Linked DNA regions of Homo sapiens. The protein of the gene in region 3 interacts with the protein of the main gene of each other region in a pairwise test. Each region holds a gene or a part of one and is shown on either strand. Other genes may lie near its edges.

Region 1 (5,400 bases), on a different chromosome or scaffold from region 3:
GTATACTTTTGGGCGGGGTAGTGGAGACCAGCATGGGTCCGGGAGTGATTAGGGTCCAATCTGGGGGCTTCTTGGCCCCTCCCATTGCCGACACACTTTCCCACCATTGTTGGACCTGTTTTGTAGGAGGCAGCCGGTCCAGAGAGACTTTCTCAAAGCCCAGCTGTCCCACCTAGCATTCAACATCAGTCGCACTGCATACGTCTCATACAATTGGAAGAGACTCAAAGCCTCATTTCATTCTCTCTCCCTAGATCCACCTCCAGTGGCTGCTCTGCTGGTGGTGGAGTTGCTGCTGACAACCACCCTCAACGGGTCTGCACCCATCCAGGAAATATCTGTCTTCCTTTAGCTTGGTTGTACCTGTTCTCACTCTATCTGTATTATTGAATTATTGACTGAGACTGTGTTTGGGAAGGAGGCTGAGTGACTACTGGACTGGATATTGACTCTAACTCTTATTCCCAAGCTTATATCCTTAATCACCTAAAGATCAGAGTGTGAAGAAACAAACCTGTGACAGATCTGTGGTTGAGGTTTAGACTACGGGAGGAGTATATTACCTGACTTTCTTTGTAACTTGTACCATGACTGGGGCAGAGATTGAGCCTAGTGCCCAGGCCAAGCCTGAAAAGAAGGCTGGGGAAGAGGTTATCGCTGGGCCTGAGAGAGAGAATGATGTCCCTCTGGTGGTCAGACCCAAGGTTAGGACCCAGGCAACTACTGGGGCAAGGCCCAAAACTGAGACCAAGTCTGTGCCTGCGGCAAGGCCCAAAACTGAGGCCCAAGCAATGTCTGGGGCAAGGCCCAAAACTGAGGTCCAAGTAATGGGTGGTGCAAGACCCAAAACGGAGGCTCAAGGAATCACAGGGGCCAGGCCCAAAACCGATGCCAGGGCAGTAGGTGGCGCTCGTTCTAAAACTGATGCCAAGGCAATCCCTGGAGCAAGGCCCAAGGATGAGGCCCAGGCATGGGCCCAGAGTGAATTTGGGACTGAAGCAGTGTCACAGGCAGAAGGAGTGTCCCAGACTAATGCCGTTGCTTGGCCACTGGCCACTGCTGAGTCTGGATCAGTTACTAAATCTAAGGGCCTGTCTATGGATAGAGAACTAGTCAATGTGGATGCTGAAACCTTTCCTGGCACCCAGGGTCAGAAAGGAATCCAGCCCTGGTTTGGACCAGGGGAGGAGACTAATATGGGGTCTTGGTGCTATTCCAGGCCCAGGGCCAGAGAGGAGGCCTCTAATGAGTCTGGGTTCTGGTCAGCAGATGAGACCTCTACAGCGTCTTCTTTCTGGACTGGAGAAGAGACAAGTGTCAGATCATGGCCCAGGGAAGAGTCCAATACCAGGTCCAGGCACAGGGCTAAACATCAGACTAATCCCAGGTCCAGGCCCAGATCCAAGCAAGAAGCCTATGTTGATTCCTGGTCTGGATCTGAGGATGAGGCCAGCAACCCATTCTCCTTCTGGGTTGGAGAAAATACCAATAACTTGTTCAGGCCCAGAGTCAGGGAGGAGGCAAATATCAGGTCCAAGCTCAGGACAAATAGAGAAGATTGTTTTGAATCTGAGTCTGAAGATGAGTTCTATAAGCAGTCCTGGGTTTTGCCTGGAGAAGAGGCCAATAGTAGATTCAGGCACAGAGACAAAGAAGATCCTAATACTGCCTTGAAACTCAGGGCCCAGAAAGATGTTGACAGTGATAGGGTCAAACAAGAACCCAGGTTTGAGGAGGAAGTCATTATTGGGTCCTGGTTCTGGGCAGAAAAAGAGGCCAGTTTGGAGGGTGGAGCTTCAGCAATCTGTGAATCTGAGCCAGGAACTGAGGAGGGGGCCATTGGCGGATCCGCGTACTGGGCTGAGGAAAAGTCCAGTTTGGGGGCTGTGGCCAGAGAAGAGGCCAAGCCGGAGTCTGAAGAAGAGGCCATATTTGGGTCCTGGTTCTGGGACAGAGATGAGGCCTGCTTTGACCTAAATCCCTGTCCTGTGTACAAGGTCAGTGATAGGTTCAGAGATGCAGCTGAGGAGCTTAATGCATCCTCCAGGCCCCAAACCTGGGACGAGGTCACTGTTGAATTCAAACCTGGTCTTTTTCATGGGGTTGGCTTCCGATCCACAAGCCCCTTTGGAATTCCCGAAGAGGCTTCTGAAATGCTTGAGGCAAAGCCCAAGAACCTGGAACTTAGCCCAGAAGGAGAAGAGCAGGAATCTTTGCTTCAGCCTGATCAGCCTAGTCCTGAGTTCACATTTCAGTATGATCCTTCCTACCGGTCAGTCCGGGAAATTCGAGAGCATCTTAGGGCCAGGGAGAGTGCAGAGTCTGAGAGTTGGTCCTGCAGCTGCATACAATGTGAGCTGAAAATTGGTTCTGAAGAGTTTGAAGAATTCCTTTTATTAATGGACAAAATTCGGGATCCTTTTATTCATGAAATATCTAAAATTGCAATGGGTATGAGAAGTGCTTCTCAATTTACCCGAGATTTCATTCGAGATTCAGGTGTTGTCTCACTTATTGAAACCTTGCTTAATTATCCATCCTCTAGAGTTAGGACAAGTTTTTTGGAAAATATGATTCACATGGCTCCACCTTATCCAAATCTAAACATGATTGAGACATTCATATGTCAAGTGTGTGAGGAAACCCTTGCACATAGTGTGGATTCCCTTGAGCAGCTGACTGGAATAAGGATGCTTAGACACCTCACTATGACTATTGACTATCACACACTGATTGCCAACTATATGTCCGGGTTTCTCTCCTTATTAACCACAGCCAATGCGAGAACGAAGTTTCACGTTCTGAAAATGCTATTGAATTTGTCTGAAAATCCTGCTGTGGCAAAAAAACTATTCAGTGCCAAAGCTCTTTCAATATTTGTGGGTCTCTTTAACATAGAAGAGACAAATGATAATATTCAAATTGTTATTAAAATGTTTCAGAATATCAGTAACATTATAAAAAGTGGAAAGATGTCCTTAATTGATGATGATTTCAGTCTTGAGCCGCTTATTTCTGCATTTCGTGAATTTGAGGAGTTAGCTAAGCAACTACAAGCCCAAATAGACAACCAAAATGATCCTGAGGTGGGACAACAAAGTTAATATGATTAACCACCTGCCGCTGATCAGCCTTATGTTCCCAAAGAGCCCTGAGTAGTGCTTTGGTGTTCACAGTCTGTTTTTTTGTTGTAACTTATATTTTTTAATGCTGATGTTAACTTTGTCAAACTCTTGTTTTGAGCTGGATCATTTTGTGGATGCCAAATGAATATCAAAACTGAAAACACATTTGTTGATATTTGTCTTGCTGTCCAGATTGCGGTATTTTTCAGTATTAAGTTTTCAATGAACTGTGTCACCTAAGTAAGCTACCCTGCTATTCGTTGTTTAAATATATGGTTCTCTATTTGAGTCTGTGTTTTCAATAAAGTTCTATGTTAAAATTGGCATAAGTGACCCTTCTTCAGTTTAAGAACCATGTACAGATAAATCGTGTGCACTTACAAACATAGGTAATTATTAGTATGACAAACATGCGCTTATTAGAAAATTCTGTTCTTGAGTTAAGAAGGGAGAGATTATTGTGGGCCCTGATACTTGAGGAATGTTTCCGAGAAGAGGGACCCACTTAAATTGGTCAGGATAGAACAAATTGGTCAGGATAGGAGAGCAAGACAACTTGCCCGCCTGCTTGCCCAATTATGAGCCTTCCCAACAAGCAACCTAAAATTAATACTTCTTATAGGACCCATTTAAATTACCATCTTAGCCCTGGGATTTGCCTAAGGGTAGGATAAGACAAATCATTAGGTTGCTCTTGGAAGTGGGCAGTGGTGGTTTGAAGAAAAGTGTGTAATTGAATAATCTGTTCTAGTAGCATGGATGAACCCAGTCTGCTTGAAACAAGTAAAAGGAGTTTGATGAGAAATGCAGTTAGAAAGTTGGGAAGAGGCCAATTTGGGGAACAGAATAAGCCAAATCTGCATATTTAACAATTCAAAGTACAGGTGTTACTTCAATGCCACCTAAAGGCTGAAAGAGTAGGATAGCACAATTAAATGGAGTGGGGAATATGATTTCCTTTATATTCCTAGACAAAGGAAAGTGTTAAGGAAATACCATGCAGCCGTTGGAATGATTATGTATGGATAGGTTTATTGACACAAAAGGACATTAATTATTTTATATTTGGTGAAACAGAGAATGTGACATCATGTATGGAAAATTAGATTCCATTTTTAAAACATCTGTAAATGTACACAATTCCTATGCAATTTCAATATGAATTTCTAAACACAGTCTGGAATAAAATATATACCTTGTTAAAAAATGCTTAGAGACAGGCGTTGGGGAGATACAAACATTAATAAGACAAATTAAAAAATTAATATGCTTACATTTTGTGCCTTGAGTTATAGATGAGCATGCCGGAAAGGACAGAATTATATAAATGAATAAACTATAAGTGTTAAAAAATGATTAGAGATAATATCATTTAGAAAAGTTGTAAATGAATGAGCTATCAGAAAGACTAGCTTTTTATAAAACGTTTTCAAGATAAAAATTAAAATTGGCCAGGCACAGTGGCTCACACCTGTAATCCCAGCCCTTTGGGAGGCCGAAGCGGAAGGATTGCTTGAGCTCAAGAGTTCAAGGCCAGCCTGGGCAACATATTGATGCCTTGTCTCTACTAAAAATAAAAAAAATTAGCCCAGCATGGTGGCACGCACTTGTCCTAGCTACTCAGGAGGCTGAGGTAGGAGAATCACTTGAGCCTAGGAAGTTGAGGCTGCAGTCAGTCATAGTCACACCACTGCACTCCAGCATGGGTGATGTGAGTGAGACCTTGTCTCAAAAAAAATAAAATAAAATAAAATAATCAAGGGTGGGCCAGGCGCGGTGGCTCACGCTTGTAATCCCAGCACTTTGGGAGGCTGAGGTGGGTGGATCACTTGAGGTCAGGAGTTCGAGACCAGCCTGGCCAACATAGCGAAATGCTGTCTCTAGTAAAAATACAAAAACTTAGCCAGGCATGGTGGTGTGCGCCTGTAATCCCAGCTACTGGGGAGGCTGAGGCAGGAGAGTCGCTTGAGCCTGGGGGGCAGAAGTTGCAGTCAGCTGAGGTCGCACCACTGCACTACAGCCTGGGTGACAGAGCAGAACTCCGTCTCAAAAAAAAAAAAAATTACCAAGGGTGTTAAGTTTAATATTAGTCTGTTCATGGTACAAAAATGGCACCTTTTTCACATAATTATTACCGTAAAAAACATAACATTTCCTTTTGAGGTGACAACAAAGTTCTGGAGCTAGATAGTGGTGATGGTTGTACAACATTGATAATGTACTGGGTTGTATACTTTAAAATGGTTAAAATGTTAAATTTTATGTTATGTGTATT
Region 2 (5,267 bases), on a different chromosome or scaffold from region 3:
GATGGGGTTTCAGCAGCAGAGGGAGAAGGGGTCCCCCGGGGAGTGAAGAAATCAGAAGAAAAAGCCCCGGAGAACAAGATTTCTTTGAAGAAACGCCTGCAAGCTGCCTCTCATTTGTCTCTCTCAATCCCTATCCCTCTTGCCCCGCTCCTCTCTCTCCTCACACCCCCTTTCTTTTCTCCCTCCCTCTCTCCTTCTCTTTTTCGCCTCCCTCACCCTCTCTCCCATCAAAAAGATCAATCAGACTAATCCACAGTCTGACCTGAGTGGGATTCCTTATTTTTCCCACGGAGCCACTAAGAATAACCCCCATCAGTCTCCATAACTGGCAAGGTCCCTGCCACGAGGGGAATAGTCCAGGCTACCACCAGCCCCTGCCACTGCTCTGCACACCTCCCTCTTCAAGGGCCCGGCCTGTTGTCCTCGGGTTTGGACCGGGTTCGCTCTTTTGTAGAAACGAGGCCTGGAGAACACCTTGCACGATGCCAAGCACTGGCATGACATGGAGCTCCAGAACCTGGGCGCTGTGGTCGGCCGGCTGGAGGCGGAGCTCAGGGAAATCCGAGCGGAGGCGGAGCAGCAGCAACAGGAGCGCGCGCATCTGCTGGCCCGCAAGTGCCAGCTGCAGAAGGACGTGGCGTCCTACCACGCCCTGCTGGACAGGGAGGAGAGCGGGTAAGCCTCGCTTCCGCGTCAATTATCCAAGAGATGCATATTCATGGCTTTAAAAATAATTATTTTCCAAACACTGTAGAAGTATTTAAGAAGAAATCACCCCAGACTTCCTCTCACATAGGCACCCATTCCCACAGCCTAGCTGTGTCCTTCCTTTCCTATTCACATACAAATAATATATATAATATATTCACATACTAATACATTTTCTATATGTATGCATATTTATGTATGTATATATACACACATACATTCACATACATGTGTATACCTAGGACGTACATAATAGCTGTTAGGAATGTTTCAGTTGCTTGTAATAGAACCTAATTAATGAGGCTATAAACCAGTGCTCCTGAAACTAATGTGCACTCAAAACCCTGCGCATCTTTTTTTTTTTTTTGGATACAGGGTCTCGTCTCGGTATGTTGCCCAGGCTGGTCTCGACTCAAACCCCTGGGCTCAAGTGATCCTCTCACCTAAGCCTCCAGAATAGCTGGGGTTACAGGTGTGAGCCGTGACACCCCAGCTGGGCATCTTTTTTAAATGCAGATTCTGCTTCAGTACGTCTGGGGTGGGGTCTGAGAGTCTTCCTTTCTAACAAGCTCCCAAGTGATGACTATACTGCTGCTCCACAGACTACACTCTGAGTAGCAAAGATGTGTAAATCATTTATTTAAGAGTCCCAGAAACAGGTGATCTAGGCTGCTCAAAGATTTCATTAAGGACTCAAGCTCTTTTCATCTTTCTAACATACCATGACAACATTGGCTTTTTGTCTTTATCTTTGTCACCCCATGGTTACCATATGCCAGCCACAGATCCAAACATCACATCCTCATTCCTGGCCGGAAGTGGGAGAGAAGAGGCAGCAGCAAAAAAAAAAAAAAAAAAAAAGGCTTTTTCTTTTTTTTTATTGATCATTCTTGGGTGTTTCTCGCAGAGGGGGATTTGGCAGGGTCATAGGACAATAGTGGAGGGAAGGTCAGCAGATAAACAAGTGAACAAAGGTCTCTGGTTTTCCTAGGCAGAGGACCCTGCGGCCTTCCGCAGTGTTTGTGTCCCTGGGTACTTGAGATTAGGGAGTGGTGATGACTCTTAACGAGCATGCTGCCTTCAAGCATCTGTTTAACAAAGCACATCTTGCACCGCCCTTAATCCATTTAACCCTGAGTGGACACAGCACATGTTTCAGAGAGCACAGGGTTGGGGGTAAGGTCACAGGTCAACAGGATCCCAAGGCAGAAGAATTTTTCTTAGTACAGAACAAAATGAAAAGTCAAAAGGCTTTTTCTTGAATGATCCTCTCCTTTAATCAGTGAAGGAAAGACATTTTGAGGCTTGCAGTGGACTGTCCCTTATATCTCATTGGCCAGAACCTGCTTATACTGGCCATACCCATCTGCAAGGGAGGCTAAGAAAGCAACTCTTTAGCTTTTCCAGACTCCATAGTGGAGGCAGGCAAGGGGTTGGGACTAGGAGTTGAGTTAGTCTGCCATAATTACACACACACACTTGCACTCACTCTTTTTTTAATAGATAAGGATTCCAGAGGCATATACATCAGCCTTGGGCCTTAGCTTCCTTGCCAACTCTTTCCAGAAACCCAGGCCCTTATTTTGTATCATAGTTCTATGCCTTCTTATTTCCCTCCAAGACTCCTTGTCTGACATATGTTGAATAAGGAATAGAGACAGCTTAGTGATTGTATCATCCAACCCCTCCTGATTCAAGAGAGAACACAAAGACCCAGAATGGAAAAAGATTTGCGCATGATCACACAGGAGGCGGAGACAGCACTGGGATGGGAGCCCAGGTCTCCTGCTCTCTCCAACTGTGTAACCTCTCTTTATTCAGAAGGCGGGAGAGCCTCAAGGAAGCGACCTAACCACGCCCTGCTTTCAAATGGAAAATATGTCATCCAGCTCCTCTCCAACTGTCTTTTATTGAATTGATTTTTGTTGATTATAAAAGCCAGATGTTCCTAACAAAGTATTTTTTTTTCAGATGCCTATGAGCATCTGTATAAACACACAAAGTCAATTTAAACAAACAGCAAGAGCAGTGAGTTAGGCCGAGTTACTTCTTAAGAATCTATGTGCTACGTTCATTTAGTGAGTGCCAAGGCAGACCTGACTCTTGATTATTTTTGTTTATCCTCCAAACCCTGCCAAGACAACCTCATGATCCGTGTTTTAGAGACAGGAAACAAAGCCTCAGAGAGCTTAAGTCATGGCCCAAGGTCTCACAGCAAATAACCATGGAGTAATTATTTAAAACCCAAAACTATCTTGTTCCAAAGGCCAGATTCTTTCATGAGATGGCCCCCTTTCTCGTAATCCTATTGTGATAGAATGACCGATTTTCCTCACCCATTGCTTCTGACTCCTATGTGTTTCCTTTCAGCTGATGGAGAAACTTCCTCTTTTTCATGAAGAAAACACCCTTCCTCAACAGCTGACCCAAGAAGTTGCTTGAGGAGCTTTCTCCTGAGCTCCAGTCCCTGCTGGATTCCCTGGTTAATTCAGCTTGAGCTGAAAAGCTTCCTGGAAGTGGAGAGGATCCTTCTGCTTTAATCTGAGTAGTCTGTAGCTTGAGCAATCTCCCTTGTCCTCCTTCAAATAAATGCTTTGTGCGCAGCGTCCAGTTTGCCCACCTTGTTCAACTCACTATAGGGTCGAGATGGATATCACTTTGTCTGTCTGGCCTTTGCTCACAGAGCTATGCTTGAAGGCTTCTGGAAGGATTCCCTTGAGTGTGACGCCATCTGCCTCCCTAGGGTCACCTGCTCTTGGGTTTGTCAACATAAAAGTGCTGCGGAGGCAAAAGCAGTGCTCATGGCATGCAGGATTGACGCAGTCTGGGACAAAAAACAACACTCTTGCTCGAGAGGGGATTAGTGTGGTGCTTTATCACATGTTTCATAATTACAGGCATCGTGGAGTATTCAGACCTCTTTAATATACTCTGCATGCATATTCATGTGCAGACACACACATTTCACTTGCTATTGGCAGAGCATCTCTCAATCAGTTAAAAGGGAACTTCAATCTAAGCCCAATCTAAACCCATTCAATCTAAGTGGGGGATTAATTACACTGTGGTTGCTCACCCCACTTACAGCCTCAGAATTTTCTTCCAGGGTCCTTTCTCCAGTTCTCTCAGGGCCTAAGCCAGCCAAATATAGTTCATGCATCTGCCACCTACCCAGGCAAGACTCTCTTGCCTTCTGATTAAAATTGAAACCACCACCTGTGTCCTACCACAGGTTCTCAGTGTCTCTAAAACTGAAAGGAAAAAAAAAAAAAAAAAAAGCCCAACTTTAATTTTGTCATTCCTCCCTCAAACTTCTGTTGGTCTACCTATCACACAGAATTACAGACCAAAATATCCAAGCTGAGTCTTTGTGTTTGTGAGCTGCTAATCCAGACAGGGGGATGTATCCAACACTGGTACATTTGAAAACCCCCATACCCGAGGGTCCAAATAACCAAGGCCCACACAAAGAAAAGAACATTTATTTATCCTTAAGGATTGCTTATAAGAGAAGCAAGGTGGCCAGGCGCGGTGGCTCATGCCTGTAATCCCAGCACTTTGGGAGGCCAAGGTGGGCAGATCACAAGGTCAGGAGTTCGAGACCAGCCTGGCGAATATGGTGAAACCCCGTCTCTACTAAAAATACAGACGTTAGCCAGGCTTGGTGGCGGGCGCCTGTAGTCCCAGCTACTCAGGGGGCTGAGGCAGAAGAATCGTTTGAACCCAGGAGGCGGAGGTTGCAGTGAGCCGAGATTGTGCCACTGCACTCCAGCCTGGGCAACAGAGCAAGACTATCACACAAAAAAAATAAATAAATAAAAGGCAAGATATATGGTATCCTGGTTGGAATTGCTACAACTGGTTTTCCTTTTTGGCCTGCAAGAGCAAAGGAATTGTATTAAAGATCACATGAGCAGAACCACTATTTACAATGTGCATAGCCCCTTGACATAGGTCAGTTTGTTGTTTGAGACATGGAAATAGGCAAGACACCCTAAAACTACATTTTAGCAAAGTATCCATCTCCATAGCTGCACACTATGGGGCTGCCCATAATTGAACCGCCTGGGTACAAGAGTCTTGCCAGAAAACAAAGTGGGTGGCTGGCCTTGCTATGTTGGATGCACAAGACACTGACGTCTGTTTCTTTTCTGTCTTTCTTGTTACTATTAATTTTTGGTCCCTCAGGCAAGACCTAAATTCCTAACCTAAATGTAGCTGGAGGCTTCAAAGGTGACAGTCCCCAAAAGGTCAGCCATCAAAAGGAGGTACTTCTATGACCGAATGGCCATGCAGTTTTTAGAACCTGGAAGTCGTTTCAGCCACTGGAAAGACGGGAGAATGTATCTGCGCATCCTCCTGAGTTTCCACCAGACAGCATGCTGTGCAGGGCTGCACACACTTGGTCTCCTCCGCACCATCATCTCAAAGAGCAGCTGCCGTAAATCATTCAGTTAATCACCCTTTGGCAGGGAGAGCCGTGGCAGACTGGTGCTTCCAGTTCCCAGCACAGGCTCTTGCTGTTTCTAATGAGGCTTCATTAACAGGTATGAGAAGGC
Region 3 (9,433 bases):
TTTGTTCCTGTTGCCCAGGCTGGAGTGCAATGGTATGATCTTGGCTCACTGCAACCTCCGCCTCCCAGGTTCAAGTGATTCTCCGGTCTCAGCCTCCCGAGTAGCTGGGATTACAGACACCCACTACCATGCCCAGCTACTTTTTGTATTTTTTAGTAGAGATGAGGTTTCACCATGTTGACCAGGCTGGTCCTGAACTCCTGACCTCAGGTGATCCACCCACCTCAGCCTCCCAAAGTGCTGGAATTACAGGCGTGAGCCACTGTGCCCGGCCGGCAATACCCCATTTCTATTAGAAACACAAAAATTAGCCTGGTGCAGTGGCATGCACCTGTGGTCCCGGCTACTCAGGAGCCTGAGGCAGGAGGATTGCTTGAGCCTGGGAGGCAGAGGTTCCACTGAGCCCAGATTGCGCCACTGCACTCCAGGCTGGGCAACACAGCAAAACTTTGTCTCAAAAAAAAAAAAGATCCCTTGCCGGGCACGGTGGCTCACACCTGTAATCCCAGCACTTTGGGAAGCTGGGGCGGGGGGGGATCAGTTGAGGTCAGGAGTTCAAGACCAGCCTAGCCAACATGGTGAAACCCTGTCTCTACTAAAAATACAAAAATTAGCAGGGCGTGGTGGCATGCACCTGTAATCCCAGCTACTCGGGAGGCTGAAGCAGGAGGATCGCTTGAACCCAGGAGGCGGAGGTTGCAGTGAGCTGAGATTCGCGCCACTGCACTCCAGCCTGGGCGACAGAGCAAGACTCCATCTCAAAAAAAAAAAAAAAAAAAAAAAAAAAAGTCCCGCGTGTGTGATACGCCAGGCGGTGCACCCAACTGACAAGTCAGGCACGTCCTGGTGCTCACAGACCCCTGCTCTGAAGTTTGTTTGAGGGCTCCCCCTGGGGGCAGCCAAGAGTATCGCGTTGGTGCCACTCCGGCCCAGCTTCCTGGTGAGGGAGTAGGTGCACCTCCCCAGGCTACAGAAGTGGGTACAGGTGTGGAGGAAGGCATCCTCCTTCGGCCTCCAGCTGTAGCCCCAGCACCAGGCACATCCTTAGAGGCCATGCCCCTGGCACCTGGCCACAGGAGTCAGGGAGTGATGCAAGAATTGGGCCCAGGTAGGCACGGCAGAGAGCCTGGCTCCAGGCAGGCCCGAATTCGCACTCCAGCCTGCGGTGCTGAGCGGCTGGCAGCTCTGGGGCAAGACAGTGGAAGAGCACACAGCCCTTCAGGAGGTGGGAGCAGAGAGGGTACAGACAGAGGGAGGCCATAGAGGAAGTCCCAGGACACCTGGGCCCGGTCTGTACAGTTGAGTCCATAGAGCAGCTCCTGGGTCCCCAGATAGCAGCGTGCTGGGTGATGAGCTAGATGGCCTCTAGGTGGGGGTGGTGGCTCTGCCCCTCCAGGGCCCTGAGCCAGCAGGCCACACCTCCAGGGCCACAGCCAGCCTGGAGCAAACACGCAGTCCCAGGTGGGAACAAGGAAAGAGGCCCTGAACATCTGGGCTGGGGGCTTGGAAGGCTGTGTGTGTTGGCAGGCTTTCTGGGAGTTGGGGTGACCTCAGAGCTCCAGATTTGACACCCCAAAAGCCAGCTGTGTCAATCAAATATGTCACGCCATTTGTCTGGCCCTCCGTTTGCCTGTGAGAGGGTGACAGCTACAGCCCTAGCCATGTGGCCTTCAGGGAGATGTGGTACGTGAGCCAGTGCCGCATGGGGCATCAGAGCAGAGCAGGGGTGGACCACAGGCTTAGGCCTCCAAACCCCAGGCCCGGCCACAGCGTGCAATCCCATGGCTGATTTCAAACTGCATGGCCACATGGATGACGCTGACCCTGCATTTGGAGCCAGATACCCTCTGAAGGTTCCCTCACCATAGAACTAGGGGTCCCCCAGCCTGGTGTGGCTGCTGGATCAGATCACCAGGGAGGCCAGGGCCGCCGTGGCTCCAAACACCAGCTGTAGGGCTGGAGAATATGGCTGAGGTGGGGGAGCAGTACAGGGAGGGTGGCAGAGCAGCAGGCAGCACAGGGACCGGCAGGAGCCACCGGTGGGCAGGCCTCCCCTGGCAGAACGGGTGCACAGGCCGAATGGGCTGTGGGGCCTGGGGCCCCTCTGGGAGCTTGGCCCCCCAACCCCAGCCATAATACAGGTCCTGTTCCCAAGGCAGGCACTGGGTTGGGGGAGACAGGGGACCATTCAGCAATCTCCCATCACTGCCAACTGGACCGGAAGGCAGGAGAGGAGTGTGCCAGCCATCCCCAGGGACTACGGCCTATGTCCCTCCATGGCATCTGCCATAGTACAGCCCCACTGGGGTGCAGGAGATCCACCCACGCCCCTGCCCATCTTGGCAACAGGGCCAGGTCCTCTTGGGCCACCAGCAGCAGCCCCCGCCTGCCTAGGCCTCAGTGGGGTCAGTGGGCCCAGCCCCCCTGGCTAAGCTGTCACACTGAGAAGGGGGACCCTTTCTTTGAGAAGGAAGCACTTCTGCCTGAGCAGCCACAGACAGGAGGCTGAGGGCCCAGGTGTCCCCAGGTGCGGAAAGGGTATTGGAGATGGAGAGCCCAAGCTCAGGCTTGGTACAGGTTGGGCTCCCGGTGGGTTTTCTGAGTCACCTGCCACCCCCCGGCCCTGGTGGCCTTATGCTGTGGCAGGAGAGGGTCTGGCTTGCCTCCCTAAGCAAGCCCCTGGGCTCACCGCGACAAGCATGAAGCCCTTTCCCTCCAGACCCGCCGAGGCGCCCTCCAGGATCCGGAGTCCACGAAGAGCCGCTCCCCGGTCCCGTCCCTTGTGGGAAATGCACGGGCAGCAGCTGTGGGACTGCGGTTTCTGGCCCGGGCCCGGGAGAGCTACGAGGGTGCCCGGGGGCCGTCCGGAACTCACCTGCGTCCGCGCTGGAGCTCGGTTCCAGCGCCGCGCTCTGGGACCGCTCGGGCTCCGCGGGGCAGGGCGCCGCCTCAGCCGGGGCGCACAGCTGCTCCGGGCTGCGGGCGGCGGCGCTGGGACCGGCCAGAGGGGCGCGCACGCCCAGGGGCAGGGGCTTCCTCTCCAGGACCGTCCGCGGCTCGTCGGCCGGAGCGAACACCAGGCGCTGCGGCGGCGGCGGCGGCTGATCCCCGGGCCGGGCCGGGGCGCGCGTGGGGTCCCGGGGGCCGCCGTCGGCGCTCAGCAGGGAGGTGCGCAGGCCGGCCACGAAGCGCTCGAAGGTCAGGTAGCCGCTGGCCGGGGCCACCTGGCGCAAGCCCTCCAGCACCCCGCGGGGCAGCTCCCGCGCGTCGGTGCCCTGCCAGCGGGACTCGATCTCGCGCAGGTGCACGCAGCCGCGCCGCCGGTCGTCCAGGATGTCGAACAGGGTGCGCAGGCTCTGCAGGAAGGCGCGCGGCAGCCCCTCCGTGCTGGGCGCGGGTGCGGGGGGAGGCACGCGGCCCCGCTCGGCCATGGCGGCCCCGGCCATGGGCGCCCGGGATCGGTCCCCTCGTCCACCCGCGTGCGTCCCAGCGCGGCCCCACGGAGGGGCCGGCCCGGCGAGCTCAGCCCACGGCGACAATAGCGACTACTTTTGAATGGGGCCCTCCTCGCGGCGTCAGCCCTCATTAACATGCGCCGCGGCCATTGGCCGAGCCCGTCCCATCTGCTCTCTGATAGGCTGAGAGGAGGTTTGATTTTTTTTTTTTTTTTCTTGCCGAGTGGCCCTGGGAGGCGCGCGGAGGCCCTGGGCAGGCGGAACCGGATCCCCCAGCTCCTGCTCCACTCTGGCCTCGCAGACCTTCCTTTCTGCCCCGCCCCAGCCCCACCAAACCTCCTGCCGCGGCCAGGCGCTTTCTCGGATCCAGCTGTGGCTGGCTGCCCCGGCCACCTCTCCAAGGGGCGGGGCCTGGCACCCTACAAAAAAACCTGTCTCCAGGTAGCCTCGTGGGGTAAGAATGGGGGGGGGCACCCCCTCCAAAGATCCCACTTTTCCCCTCTAGTTCCCTGGCCGCAAGCACAGGTGACCCTGCGGCCCCCTTCTCTTCCACCAGGAGGGCCCCAAGAGGATCGTAGGCTCCAGCCAGCTGGGCGCTTCCCACTCACAGAGGCCTTTCTGTCCCCACTGCTGCTGGCTCCTCCTCTGGTCCCTCGGGACAGTCTGGCCTGGCCTGCCTGCTGCAGAACAAAGCCACTTTCTCCTGTGTCCCCAGATCCCCATCTAGTGACCAGCTCCCTCTGCCTCTTGCTCTCCTCTCCTCCTTCCCCTGGCTGGACACCTCCTCCAGCTGCTCTCCTGGCTCCCGCAGCCCTGTCCCCCTGCCTCTGCTGTGTTTCCAGCTGGGATCTGGTCACTCTGTCTTCATTTGGTCTGTCCACATGGGAGGTGAGACCAGGCCTTAGCCTGGGTTCTAGCCCTGGGAGCCCATCTCAGGGCTGGCCAGTAGTACCCTCTAGGTTCCAGGGAGGTGTTCAGGGTGCAAACACCCTCCCCAGACAGGCCCCCAATCCGAGACTTGCCTTGGCCCTCTGCGGGTCTCCCACCCTCCCTCCTGGGCAGGCCTCAGCTGGCATACCTACCTGGGTCTCTGTCCTCAGGCCTGAGCCACTGGTGCCTGTGTCTCAAGCTGTAGAGGCATCTTCCCAGGCCAGGGAGTATCCTGGGTCCACTTCTCTTCTGGGTCACTCACTCTAAGTGGGACTCCTTCATCGTAGGGAATGCTGGAAGGACATAAGAAGCTCTGAGCCTGGAGCAGCCCATCAGAGCTTGGTCCTGTAAGCCAGCTTCCCCTTTAATGGCTGGTCTGCTCAAAAACCCAGCACGAGGCCGAGGCGGGAGGATCACTTGAGCTGGGGAGTTCAAGACCAGCCTGGGCAACATAAGGCAACCCTATTTCTACAAAAAGTTTAAAAAATTAGCCAGGCGTGGTGGTGCATGCCTGTGGTCCCAGGTATTTGGGAGGCTGAGGTGGGAGGATCCCTTGAACCCAAGAGGTTGAGGCTGCAGTGAGCTGTGATTGAGCCACTGCTCTCCATCCTGGGTGACAGAGCGAGATCTTGTCTCAAAAACAAAACAAAACAAAACAAACCAGCACAACACGCAAGCCCCCGCCCCCCCATCCCCACACCTACCCTGCTTCCAGCACACCCCTCACCGCCAGTGCCAGGCCTGGGGTCCCTGCACTCCCTCACTTCCAGGCCCCTGTGCCTGGTGGCTCTTCTACCAGGAAGGCCCTTCCCCTCTGCTCCAGGCTGACCGCACTACATCCTTCAGAACTCTGCTCTGGCCCCAGTCCCCTTCCCCCTGAAGCCTAGTTAGATAAAACACAGGGGACAGCTTTCTCCTGGCCCAGGGGGCCCTGGCTATTTGCAAGCAGGACAGGGCTCCTTCTAGGCCTGGCATTGGCCTGGCCCACAGTGGGTGCTCTGTGAATGGCACTGGGGAGCCGTATCCAGTGAAATCATATGGGAAACACCATCCTTGAGTGGGCACCAAGCCAGGCTGAGGCCTAAGGGATGGGGAAGGGCTGGGAACAGCTCAGTGGTATGGCAGGGGAGGCCAGTGTGGATGTGGAGTCGGTGGCCAGCAGTGAGCAAGGCTGCTGCAGCTCAGGACAGCGTGGCCAGCAGTGTCCAGGCCAGGCCAGCCATGGCCCCGCATGGAACTGAACCCACCGTGCAGATGAAACAAGGGCTTTTCATACCATCCAGAGCCTTGGGGGAGGCGGCCCCAGCTGGCCCTTGGTCTGTGGGCTTCTCTGTGGCCCCTGGCTGGGTATTGGAGGAAGGTATGAAAAAGACTGGAGGCCGGGCACGGTGGCTCACGCCTGTAATCCCAGCACTTTGGGAGGCCAAGGCGGGCGGATCACCTGAGGTCAGGAGTTCGAGACCAGCCTGACCAACATGGAGAAATCCCGTCTCTACTAAAAATACGAAATTAGCCGGGCATGGTGGCCCATGCCTGTAATCCCAGCTACTCGGGAGGCTGAGGCAGGAGAATAGCTTGAACCCCGGAGGTGGAGGTTGCGGTGAGCCAAGATCGCGCCATTGCACTCTAGCCTGGTCAAGAAGAGCAAAACTCCATCTCAAAAAAAAAAAAAAAAAAAGGCTGGGCACGGTGGCTCATGCCTGTAATCCCAGCACTTTGGGAGGCCAAGGCGGGAGGATCACGAGGTCTGGAGATCGAGACCATCCTGGCTAACATGGTGAAACCCCGTCTCTACTAAAAACACACACACACACAAAAAATGAGCCGGGCGTGGTGGCGGGCGTCTGTAGTCCCATCTATTCGGGAGGCTGAGGCAGGAGAATGGCGTGAATCCAGGAGGCGGAGCTTGCAGTGAGCCGAGATGGCACCACTGCACTCCAGCCTGGGCGACAGAGCGAGACTCCGTCTCAAAAAAAAAAAAAAAGACTGGAGGCTGTGCCTGGCTTTGGGCGTGGAGCTAAGATGTGGTCCTGTGTCCTTCCTGTCCTGAGCTCTGACCACTTCCTCCTTCACTCCACTTTCCGGCTGGCCTGATAGTTTCCCAATCCTTCAGGTTTTAGTGCTGTGTCACCCCTGGGGGTCCCATGCTGTCCCTGTACTTTTGGAGGCCCCATCTTAGCTGTAATTGTGTTCTCACTGTGTAAGCCTGGACCACTCTGGGCAGAGGTGGCAGGAAGACCGGCCCCTCTGTCCCCTGATGTATCCCCAGCAGTGGGCACCAAGTGAAGAACTGGCAACAGCCACCCAGCCCCTGAGCCTCCCAGGGCTCCCCGTCTGCACTCCTGGCCTCTGAGCCTTAGGGCCTTGCTCCCCTGGGCCTCTTGTGAAGACAACTGCCTGGCCACAAGGTGGTCCAGGAGGTTGCTGCCCACCTCAGCCTTGCCAGCACTCCCACCCATCCGTAGGCTCTGTCGGTCTGGGCAGGGTCGCTCCTCCCCTTCTGGTGCCGCAAGTGCCTCTGGCTGTACAAACCTTGATTTTCCAAATCTTCTATTACAGCCCAACCCACACCTTGAGGTGGGATTTGGAATCACCCTGACCTACAGGGCCAACAGTTCATGTCCTGACACCTGCCTCCAAGAGACATGTGCCTCCTCTGCTGCCCAGCCCTGCAGGGGTGATAAGGGTTCCCATGGACTCTGGCCTGGGGCGGGAAGCCTGCTCTGCTCACCGGATTCCGCGAGCCTCCCCTCCAACTCCAACGTTCACCTAAACGATGTTCAACCACCACAAACCACTGGAGCAGAACAGGCCATTCATTAATTCATTCATGCAGCAGGTACTCCCTGAACATTTGCTGTTGCCCAGTCACGGTGTGGGCTGGGGTTCAACACTCGTTTGTTCAATCAACAAACATTGATTGAGTGCCTACTGTGTGCTGCATTTACCTGAGGTGATGGGGGCAGACCACTGGCCTAAACAATGCCCTGCCTGGGCTGGGCACGGTGGCTCATGCCTGTAATCCCAACACTTTGGGAGGCCGAGGCGGGCAAATCATGGGGTCAGGAGTTCAAGACCAGCCTGGCCAACCATCGCTACTAAAAATACAAAAAATTAGCTGTGTGTGGTGGCGGGCGCCTGTAATCCCAGCTACTCAGGAGGCTGAGGCAGGAGAATCACTTGAACCCGGGAGGCGGAGGTTACAGTGAGCCGAGATTGCACCACTGCACTCCAGCCTGGGCGACAGAATGAGACACGGTCTCAAAACAAAAAACAAAACAAAACAAAAACAGCAACTCCCCGCCTTTGTGGGGTTCGCTTCTCACAGGGGAGTCAGGTAGCCAAGAATGCAGAAAGGCAGCCTGGCACGGAGGATGGGAAGGTGCTCACCGAGTGGGCGTGGCCTGGGGAGCTGAGGCCTGACCAAATGCGTCCCCAGCCACACGTTTCTCTGGGGACAAGCGGTCCAGGAGGGAGGAACAGGAAGTGCAGAGACCCTGAGGCAGGCCCGAAAAGCAACTCCATGCAGGTCCAGAAGAGTGCATGTGGGCCTTGCCCCAGGGGTGAAGCCCCCTCCCAAACTCAGTGAGGGCATGTGTGTGGAGGTGGGGGCAGAACCCAACTGCAAGGAAACACAACTGCCTGAGGGGTCCACGGGGCAGCATGAGGGAGATGTTAGTTTTCATTTTGGGTCCTAGATCACTGTCAGAGGTGTGTGAACCAGAGCAACTCCATCTTGAATGGGAGCTGGGTAAAATAAGGCTGGGGCCTACTGAGCTGCATTTCTGGATGGTTAAAGGATTCCAAGTCAGGATGACACAGGAGGTCGGCACAAGATACAGGTCACAAAGACCTTGCTGATAAAAGAGGTTCCGATAAAGAAGCCGGCCAAAACCCACCAAAACCAAGATGGCAACGACAGTGACCTCTGGTTGTCCTTGCCGCTACACTCCCACCAGCACCATGACGGTTTACAGATGCCACTGCAACGTCAGGAAGTTCCCCTATATGGTCTACAAAGGGGAGGGATGAATTATCCACTCCTTGTTTAGCATGTCATCCAAAAAAACATAACAATGGGCAACCAGCAGCCCTCAGGGCTGCTCTGTCTGTAGAGAAACCATTCTTTATTCCTTTACTTTCCTGATAACTTGCTTTTGCTTTACTGTATGGGCTTGCCCTGAATTCTTTCTTGCGCAAGATCCAAGAACCCTCTCTTGAGGTCTGGAACCTCTTTCCTGTAACAGCATGATTTGTTTTTCTTTTTCGGTTTGTTTGTTTGTTTTTTGAGACAGAGCTTCGCCCTTGTTGCCCAGGCTGGAGTGCAATGGCGCGATCTTGGCTCATGGCAACCTCCGCCTCCCAGGTTCAAGCGATTCTCCTGCCTCAGCCTCTGGAGTAGCTGGGATTATAAGCATGCAACACCATGCTTATATATTTATATTTATATTTAATATTTGTATCTATTTTTAGTAGAGACAGGGTTTCTCCATGTTAGTCAGGCTGGTCTCAAACCCCAGACCTCAGGTGATCCGCCCGCCTTGGCCTCCCAAAGTGCTGGGATTACAGAAGTGAGCCACTGCGCCCGGTTTTTTTTTTTTTTTTTTTTTTGAGACAGAGTTTCGCTCTGTCACCCAGGCTGGAGTGCAGTGGTGCGATCTTGGCTCACTGTAACCTCCGCCTCCCGGGTTCAAGTGATTCTCGTGCCTCATCCTCCCAAGTAGCTGGGACTACAGGTACACGCCACCACACCTGGCTGATTTTTGTATTTTTAGTGGAGACGGGGTTTCACCATGTTGCCCAAGCTGGTCTTGAACTCCTGGGCTCAAGCGATCATCCTGTCTCGGTATCCCAAGGTGTTAGGATTACAGGCATGAGCCACTGCACCTGGCCACCATTTGAATTCTTTTATGCAGTCACATATATTACTTTTAGACTTACTATATAGTTTCTAGGAGAAAGTTTTGTGCCCAACTGGCAGAAGCTACCCTTTCATATTTTTCACAAGCAAACTATTTTATTTTTATTTTTATTGAGAAGTCTCACTC

The links. Proteins that work in one complex are often made in the same cells at the same time.
Region 1: the proteins of SAPCD2 (region 3) and GPRASP2 interact in binary tests that used the Homo sapiens proteins (3 or more experiments, as listed by UniProt).
Region 2: the proteins of SAPCD2 (region 3) and BFSP2 interact in binary tests that used the Homo sapiens proteins (3 or more experiments, as listed by UniProt).

The regions. Positions count from the first base shown.
Region 1 is NC_000023.11:102,714,283-102,719,682, forward strand, and holds the end of GPRASP2 (G-protein coupled receptor-associated sorting protein 2), read left to right. Parts: intron 1-126; exon of another isoform or gene 127-254; 5' UTR 255-587; coding exon 588-3,104; 3' UTR 3,105-3,451; downstream 3,452-5,400. Other genes in the region: ARMCX5-GPRASP2 (G-protein coupled receptor-associated sorting protein 2), read left to right, coding at 588-3,104. UniProt on the Homo sapiens protein: May play a role in regulation of a variety of G-protein coupled receptors.
Region 2 is NC_000003.12:133,471,891-133,477,157, forward strand, and holds the end of BFSP2 (phakinin), read left to right. Parts: intron 1-454; coding exon 455-675; coding exon of another isoform or gene 676-679; intron 680-3,078; coding exon 3,079-3,082; 3' UTR 3,083-3,318; downstream 3,319-5,267.
Region 3 is NC_000009.12:137,067,015-137,076,447, forward strand, and holds the start of SAPCD2 (suppressor APC domain-containing protein 2), read right to left. Parts: upstream 3,544-9,433; 5' UTR 3,447-3,543; coding exon 2,876-3,446; intron 2,780-2,875; coding exon of another isoform or gene 2,690-2,779; intron 1-2,689. UniProt on the Homo sapiens protein: Plays a role in planar mitotic spindle orientation in retinal progenitor cells (RPCs) and promotes the production of symmetric terminal divisions. Negatively regulates the mitotic apical cortex localization of GPSM2.